2 linked regions of the Homo sapiens genome follow. The protein of the gene in region 1 purifies or fractionates together with the protein of each later gene. This does not show direct contact. Each region holds a gene or a part of one and is shown in the gene's direction. Other genes may lie near its edges.

The links.
Region 2: the proteins of TMEM47 (region 1) and CLCN7 purify together in Homo sapiens (affinity purification with mass spectrometry; one large-scale study listed by BioGRID and IntAct). This does not show direct contact.

Annotation. Positions count from the first base shown.
Region 1 is NC_000023.11:34,633,215-34,637,031, reverse strand, and holds part of TMEM47 (transmembrane protein 47), read left to right. Parts: intron 1-3,817. UniProt on the Homo sapiens protein: Regulates cell junction organization in epithelial cells. May play a role in the transition from adherens junction to tight junction assembly.
Region 2 is NC_000016.10:1,447,446-1,451,059, reverse strand, and holds part of CLCN7 (H(+)/Cl(-) exchange transporter 7), read left to right. Parts: intron 1-393; coding exon 394-563; intron 564-1,732; coding exon 1,733-1,784; intron 1,785-1,966; coding exon 1,967-2,094; intron 2,095-2,293; coding exon 2,294-2,379; intron 2,380-2,575; coding exon 2,576-2,705; intron 2,706-3,345; coding exon 3,346-3,405; intron 3,406-3,491; coding exon 3,492-3,614. UniProt on the Homo sapiens protein: Slowly voltage-gated channel mediating the exchange of chloride ions against protons. Functions as antiporter and contributes to the acidification of the lysosome lumen and may be involved in maintaining lysosomal pH.

The DNA of each region.
Region 1 (3,817 bases):
ACAGGTTCAGAAAAATTAAGTAATTTCCCAAGGTCATTTTAACTAGTAAGTTGTACATCTAGGGTTTAAATTCAGGATACCTATCTGACTTGAAAGCCCGAATGAGGATTCCCCAGTTATCTTTACTTCAGTACATATCACATATTGGAAAAATCAGTGCAGAATCAGCCTTGATTTTGAATTCAGTTGCCAACTGTGCACTGCAGTTGGAGTCCGTCCTGTAACTCCAGTTACTCCGTTTCTCGGGAGCAACACCTGAAGGCATTTAGTACCTTGAGATGTCATAAAGACCACAAACTGATTGATGCAGCATGACTGCACCATAGCACATAATGAAAGTTGTGCACATTTCCAGTACAGTTGACTACAGCATATTTCTTTTTGTGTAACTGACAGTGATAGGTAATATATGATGTGATTCTGATAACTGGCATCCAGTTCTCACTAAAGACTTGGTGAAATTAGAGGGACTGCCTCTTGCCACGTTCTCTTCTTTTATTGTCTACTTTTGAACTATCCGCAGGTCATTTGTATGTCCCACAGGAATATAGGATGAGTGTTTTCTTTCTTTCCAAGGCCTTTAATACAAATTGCAGAAAATTCTCTTTTATAATTCGATTTTACATACAGAATCCCCATTTATTATGTTATTAAGGATGATTCTTTATGTTATATCTGCAGAAAGCCTCCTATAAGGATTGTTTTTATAGAAAGGTGATGTTTTTTCAGGGTCCTGCAGCTGATTTCCATCTCTGAGCTATCTCTGATTGGAGGCTTGTGTCTTACAGCCCTCATCACCATCCTATAAGTCACAGTGAGATAGCTGGAACCATTTCAAGTCTAGATTTTGGTAGAAAAATCAGTGTCCAGTTTAGATTTCAAACTAAAAGAGAGTTCTTCTATTCAGGATATTTAGATTACATGTTAATTTCCCTGTACCGTTATCAAACTACACTTCGGCTAGAACAATTTACAGTATCACTTCCCAATAATTAATTTCATACTGCTGCCACTAGTAGTTACAAATTAAATTTTAAAAAGAAAAGAAATGGATACCTTCATATTAACCTTCCACTGGCAAATGCTTTTTATTCTCCAAATCATTGTTTCTTTTATGTCAATTTTATATTTAGGGACCAACCTGGCTGGTAGGGCCTATCAACCTTTGCCTTTAAATTATCTCCTAATTTTGTACCTTTTTTTCGTACACCATCATTATTGCCTTAGTCGAGGCCACAACTTTTCCCTAAATGGAACGTCTCATTCCCCAAATTTGGTCTTCCCCTACTTTATTTTGTTTTTCTATGGCAATATCTGACTGTTTTAAGATGTTTATGTGACTCCTTTATTTTGCCTTGTTGAGTATCTAGTTTTTCAGTTCTTTCTTTTAGTCTTTCTTTAGATTCCCTGACTTTTCTTTCCCACTGATGACACCTTAGTCATCACTGCCTACAGGTCCCCACACACTGAATGACCTTCTAGGGGCCTGTCCTTCTCTAATCTCTTCCCCATGTAATCTGTCTTGGATACAACACATGAGGTCTCCTTGTGACATAAACATCTGGTCTTGTCACTTGTCCCTTTGATTTCTTCAGAAGCAAACCCTGAGACGAGAAATCAAGTGCATATACTTTATTTGTAAGGTAGAAGAAGGGATATGATAAAGAGTATGGAAAATGAGACGGGAATGGGAAAGCAGCCATTAAAAGGTTACATTATCAAGCCAGTTGTCACTCGAAGCAGCTGGAGCTTAATCTTCTTGGGGAAACTTTAAAAACCGGTGTAGAACACGCACCTCGAGAATAATCTCATTCAGAGGACTACGGAGCTGGAGTATTAATGCACCAAATTTGGAGCGTCATTGGTTGAGAAATGTCGGTTATAATCAAGGGAGAGCAGTGTTAATTTTCTGGACCTGGCCTGCCCCATAGGCAGCTGAAGAGGCTTTAGTGGCCAGAGGTAACTCAGGCAAAGAAATACAGGTGCTGGCAATTGGAAGTCAGGGTAGCATGTACTGAAGTGGGGAAGATAAAAATATATGGATAGGACACCAACCGCATATACAATTACAATAACCTCGCAGATGGTCTCCCTAGAGAAACAAAAGTTTATTACTTTATGAAACACTATGGTATTATAGTATGAACTAAACAGCCTTGTGCATGCGCCCTTCATTTTACCCATGCAAATTGCTTCTAGTCATACTCTCTTAATAGCTGTAAGCACTATAGAATATGCTTTGTCTTCCTAGACGTCTTTTCTTTCCTCTGCCTCTTCTGACCACCTTTCATCCATCCTTTAAGAACCAATTCAAATGATGTCCCTCTGAAGCCCTCCTTTCTTTCTCTAAGCTGAATCAGTACTTGGCACAATGTTTGAGCTCAGTAAATGTGTGTTGAACATATTATAAACAAACATGCATGCCTCTACTATTGCTGTTGAATGCATTGATTTATAATTACTTGTGTGCCTGTCTCCACCATCAGAGTATGAATCATCAAAGGGCGAGGGCCATGTCTTATCTATCTTATCCCCTTCATCTAGCACGTAGGCACCCAATATATGTTTATCAAAATAGTGAAATGTCCTTCTTAGAAGAAAATATTGAATATTTCAATATCAATGCTTTGAATATTTTAGTGTTGAAAACACTGAAAAATATCCCTTTAAAACTAGAATAAAACACAAGAATTAGTAGGTCTACATTCCCGTCATGCCTCTGATCCACACAATTTCATGGTTAGTAGTTTCATTGCCTGTTTTCAAAAAAGTGCAGGGGGCATAAAATGAACCCCAAATCTCTTAAGATTCTAAAATGTTCCAGAGCTGTACCTATGTTATCTTTGAGGAAGAGCATAGAGAATACCATATCCAATGCCTATTTTGTTTCATTGATTGGTAGTAAAATAGAAATATAGTATAATGGCATTTTCCTGACTTCTGAACTCTTTATGTTTTTTTTTTCTTCCCTCTACAGCATCTATGAAAGGCAAGGAGGCATTTTTACCTACATCTGTGAATTTTATTACATGGAGAAAATTATTTACAAATGCAGAATTATATTTTTCTCAGTTTTGCTATTACATTCATTTTTCTCTGTGATTCCAAAGGGAGTCGAATAATTCAGAGGCATGAAGTGTTTTACAGTAATTTTTATTGAGCTCCAACACAATAAAAGTCTAAGAAAGTTGTTCGGGAGAGTATGCCAGTAGGGCCTAATGGAGTTGTATTTCCATTTTTCCACTAGAGGGAAATTATATCATTATATTATACCATGGAGGCCAAATATTTGCTAAATAAAACACGTTGAAATGAATATTAAAAGCAGCGTAGGTAAACACCTCACTCCAGGGACTAGTCAGTTCACAAAAGAAGCAGTGTAATCATTTTAGAGTAATTCAGATTAGTTATTACTTCTCTGCTCAAACTCTTCTACCAGCTGCCTGTCACACGTAGAATAAAATCTAGACCCCAGATATGGTTCACAGGCTGTCCATGAACCACGAAGGGCCCCTGCTGTTTCTTCCATCATATCTCATGCTTCTCCCTTCCTGCTCTCTGTACTGCAATCACAGCCTTCTGACTTCTGTTCCAGTGCACCAGATATGCTCCTGTGATGGGAGTTTTGCAGTGCCTATGCCTTTCACGTGGGAATGCTCAGTCCCCACTATGTTGTTCTGCACCCCCAATTCATTCAGATCTGTGCTCAATATCTCCTCCTCAGAGCAGCCTTCTCTCACGATTGATCTAAAAGAGCAGCCCTCATCCCTGTGTTCTGTCTGCTTTCTTGCATTTCTTGTCTCTTAGCAATATGTGA
Region 2 (3,614 bases), on another chromosome or scaffold:
GTGCTGCCTGCTCCAGGAAAGGAACCCCAGGCTGTGGGGGGCACCCTCTTCCCGGAGCCAGGCTGCGAGCTGCACCACGGTGCACACCCATGGAGTGTAGACCTGGCGCTGCTAGACCCAGCTGGGCCGCCCCGCTGGACGCGGCTCCTGCTTCTGCTGGCATCAGGGCCCCGCAGAGCCTCTTCCCCTGTGGCCTCCCCATGGGATCCTTTTAGCCTTTCTGCTTCCCAGGGAGGCTGAGAACAGGGAGCCTTCTGGGGACCGCTGGGCTCGGGAGCTCAGGTTGCTGGGCTCCTGGAAGGTGACTGTGAGGCCCGAGACTGGGCAGCGGGGCAGGGCAGTCCTGCGGAGGCGGGAGTCGTGGAGGCCCCGTCAGCCCCTCTTCTCTCCTAGGCTCCTACAACCCCCTGACCCTCGGCCTGTTCACGCTGGTCTACTTCTTCCTGGCCTGCTGGACCTACGGGCTCACGGTGTCTGCCGGGGTCTTCATCCCGTCCCTGCTCATCGGGGCTGCCTGGGGCCGGCTCTTTGGGATCTCCCTGTCCTACCTCACGGGGGCGGCGGTGAGTGGGGCCGGAGGGGAGGCTGTGGGGCCCTGCAGCTGAGCCAGGTCTTGCGGCATCGCGGGCCGGAGCAGAAGTCCCAGGGCAGGACAAAAGTGTCGCACCTCACGTGGTTCACGGGCCGTGGGCGTTGTCCTCGCGTGGTTCACGGGCCGTGGGCGTTGTCCTGCTGTGGTGGCAGCGTGTACTGTGGCAGCGCAGCCCATGTGTGGAGTCTGGACCAGGCGAAGGTAGGGGGCGGAGGCTCGTGTCCTTATTCTTGAGAATGTGATGAAAAGCAGAGGTGATTGTGGGCTGCTGCAGAGCTGTTTCTAGACTCCATGGGGTGGATGTCCGGCCAGGGCTGCTCTCTGTGAGGCCGGGGGCCAGAGCGGCATACACTGCCCTCCAGACCTCAGCCCCCGCAGGCCTTCCTTCTCTGCCTGCCTCTGCTGGGACTGGGTTCTCTTATGTGTCTTCTGTTTCTCATTTCAGTCGCTTAAATAAGACTGAAAACCTGTAAGAGGCCCTGGCAGGAAGCCCCCGGCCATGCTTCTCATCCCCGGCAGGAAGCGCCCACTCCTGCTCCCCAGGCCCGTGTGCTCTGCCCATCTCCCTCCGCACAAGGGTTTGGTTTGGTTTTTAAAATTGAAACATGATTCAAATACCGTAAAACTCATCGTTTTAAAGAGGGCAGTTCAGCGGCGTTTCTCACGTTCACGAGGCAGTGCGGCCGTCACTACCACTTCTAGAATGTTCCGTCATCCCAGAATGGAAACCCTGTGCCCACCGACCCTCGTGCCCCGCTTTCTGCAGCCTCCATGCCTGGGTTCTGTGGCCCAGCCTGATGTTCCCGGGGCTCTCTGTGTCGTGTGTGCCGGGGTTTCACTCCTCATGCTGGACGGTGCTCCCTAGTTGGCCTGGGCTGCTGCGTGGTGACTGTGCCCTCTGCATCCTCCATGCCTGCCACTCCCCTGTTGCTCGGGTGCTGAGCGCCTGGTTCAGGCCAAGGATGCAGCCTCCGCAGCAGGGTGTACTGTGCTAGGTTGTTCTGTGTGTATGTACGCGGCCACGAGGTTTGTTCCTGGCTGTGGGGCTGCTGGGCCTGGGCAGGGCCTCCTCCGTCTGTGTATCTTGGTGGGTTTGGGCCTGCCACCACACTGACACCTCCTCCGTGTCACCTCCCACAGATCTGGGCGGACCCCGGCAAATACGCCCTGATGGGAGCTGCTGCCCAGCTGGGTATGTCCCAGCTCTTGCCCGATGGGTGGGGAGCTCCACGGGGTCTGGAGGGGGCCATGGCTGTCCTTGCGGGGCTAGGGTCTGGGAGCAGGTGGATGGGATGGGTGCTGCAGAGAAGGCAGTGGCCACGTGACCCTGAGCCAGGAGGGTGGACGTGCTGGGGTTCATGATGGCTCCCGCAGGCGGGATTGTGCGGATGACACTGAGCCTGACCGTCATCATGATGGAGGCCACCAGCAACGTGACCTACGGCTTCCCCATCATGCTGGTGCTCATGACCGCCAAGATCGTGGGCGACGTCTTCATTGAGGTGCGCCAGGGCCTCGAAGCCTCACCCTGAGAGCGTGGGTGCTGCCATAGGGGAGGGGCCCCTGTGAGCCTCCAAACAGCCGGTCCCGGGGGGTAGGCTCAGGGTTTCTGGGGGCGGCCTCTGGGCTCCCAGGGGTAGGCTCGGGGCTCCAGGGGTGGGTGTGGACTCCTCAAGCCCTGTGTTCCCGCCCCGCCCGCAGGGCCTGTACGACATGCACATTCAGCTGCAGAGTGTGCCCTTCCTGCACTGGGAGGCCCCGGTCACCTCACACTCACTCACTGCCAGGTACAGCGCCCAGGACACCTGTGGGTGGGGAGGGTGTCCAGCGGCCTCTTGTTGCACAGGGGCAGGGTGCACGGCTTGCGGGCTCCAGGCAGCCCCGCGTTTCCTGTCCAGCGGCTTCACACCTCACCAGCCCGCAGAGGTAACTGTGGGAGTTGGTGGCGTGTGACGGGCATGTGTGGCCGGGCTCCTCCGGCAGGGAGGTGATGAGCACACCAGTGACCTGCCTGAGGCGGCGTGAGAAGGTCGGCGTCATTGTGGACGTGCTGAGCGACACGGCGTCCAATCACAACGGCTTCCCCGTGGTGGAGCATGCCGATGACACCCAGGTACCGGGCACCCCATAGACAGGGTCCTGCCTATGTGACCTCTGTCGAGTCCATTGGTGGGAAGCACACGGCAAGGTTTGCAGGATGGGGAAGCTGCACGTTTGGGTGCACTGGCAGTTCCAGGAGTGCCGGAAGCTGAGTGTGCAGCCATGGAGGGCTGTGTGGACGCTGAGGCTGGTGGGGGGGGCTGCGGCCTGGCAGGGTCTTGGGGTTGGCACCCAGGCTGGGCTGAGAGCCGTGGCACTGGGGGCCGTGACTTTGTCAGGAGGCCCTGACAGGACACACAGCTCGGCCACTGCTGTGTGTCTTTTAGACGTGGACACTGGGTGTTTGGAGGTTGGTTTTTATTGGGACCCAGTGGGGCTGCATCTGCCCTGCAGCAAAGCCACCATCCCTGGGCCCTTGGCTCTCTGCTGTGCGCGGTCAGGCCCCGCTACCCTGTCGCCGATCCTTGGGTCCCGTGGCATTGTGCGTGTGGGATGCCATGGCGAGGCTGGTGTGAGCAGGTAGCCACCGACACGGGGCCCATGCCCAGATGGGAAATCTGGCCGGAACAGGGTCAGAGCGGGGCCCGACACAGCATTCCAGCGCAGCCTCCCACCCTCGGGCCCGTGGCCCTGACCGCGGGCCTGTCTTGCAGCCTGCCCGGCTCCAGGGCCTGATCCTGCGCTCCCAGCTCATCGTTCTCCTAAAGCACAAGGTGCGTGCCAGGCTCCGGGCCATTGGGCGGGTGGGGGCCCCGGGGGTGCTGCCTGGGTGCCTGACACAGGGCTCTGCCGCCCGCAGGTGTTTGTGGAGCGGTCCAACCTGGGCCTGGTACAGCGGCGCCTGAGGCTGAAGGACTTCCGAGACGCCTACCCGCGCTTCCCACCCATCCAGTCCATCCACGTGTCCCAGGACGAGCGGGAG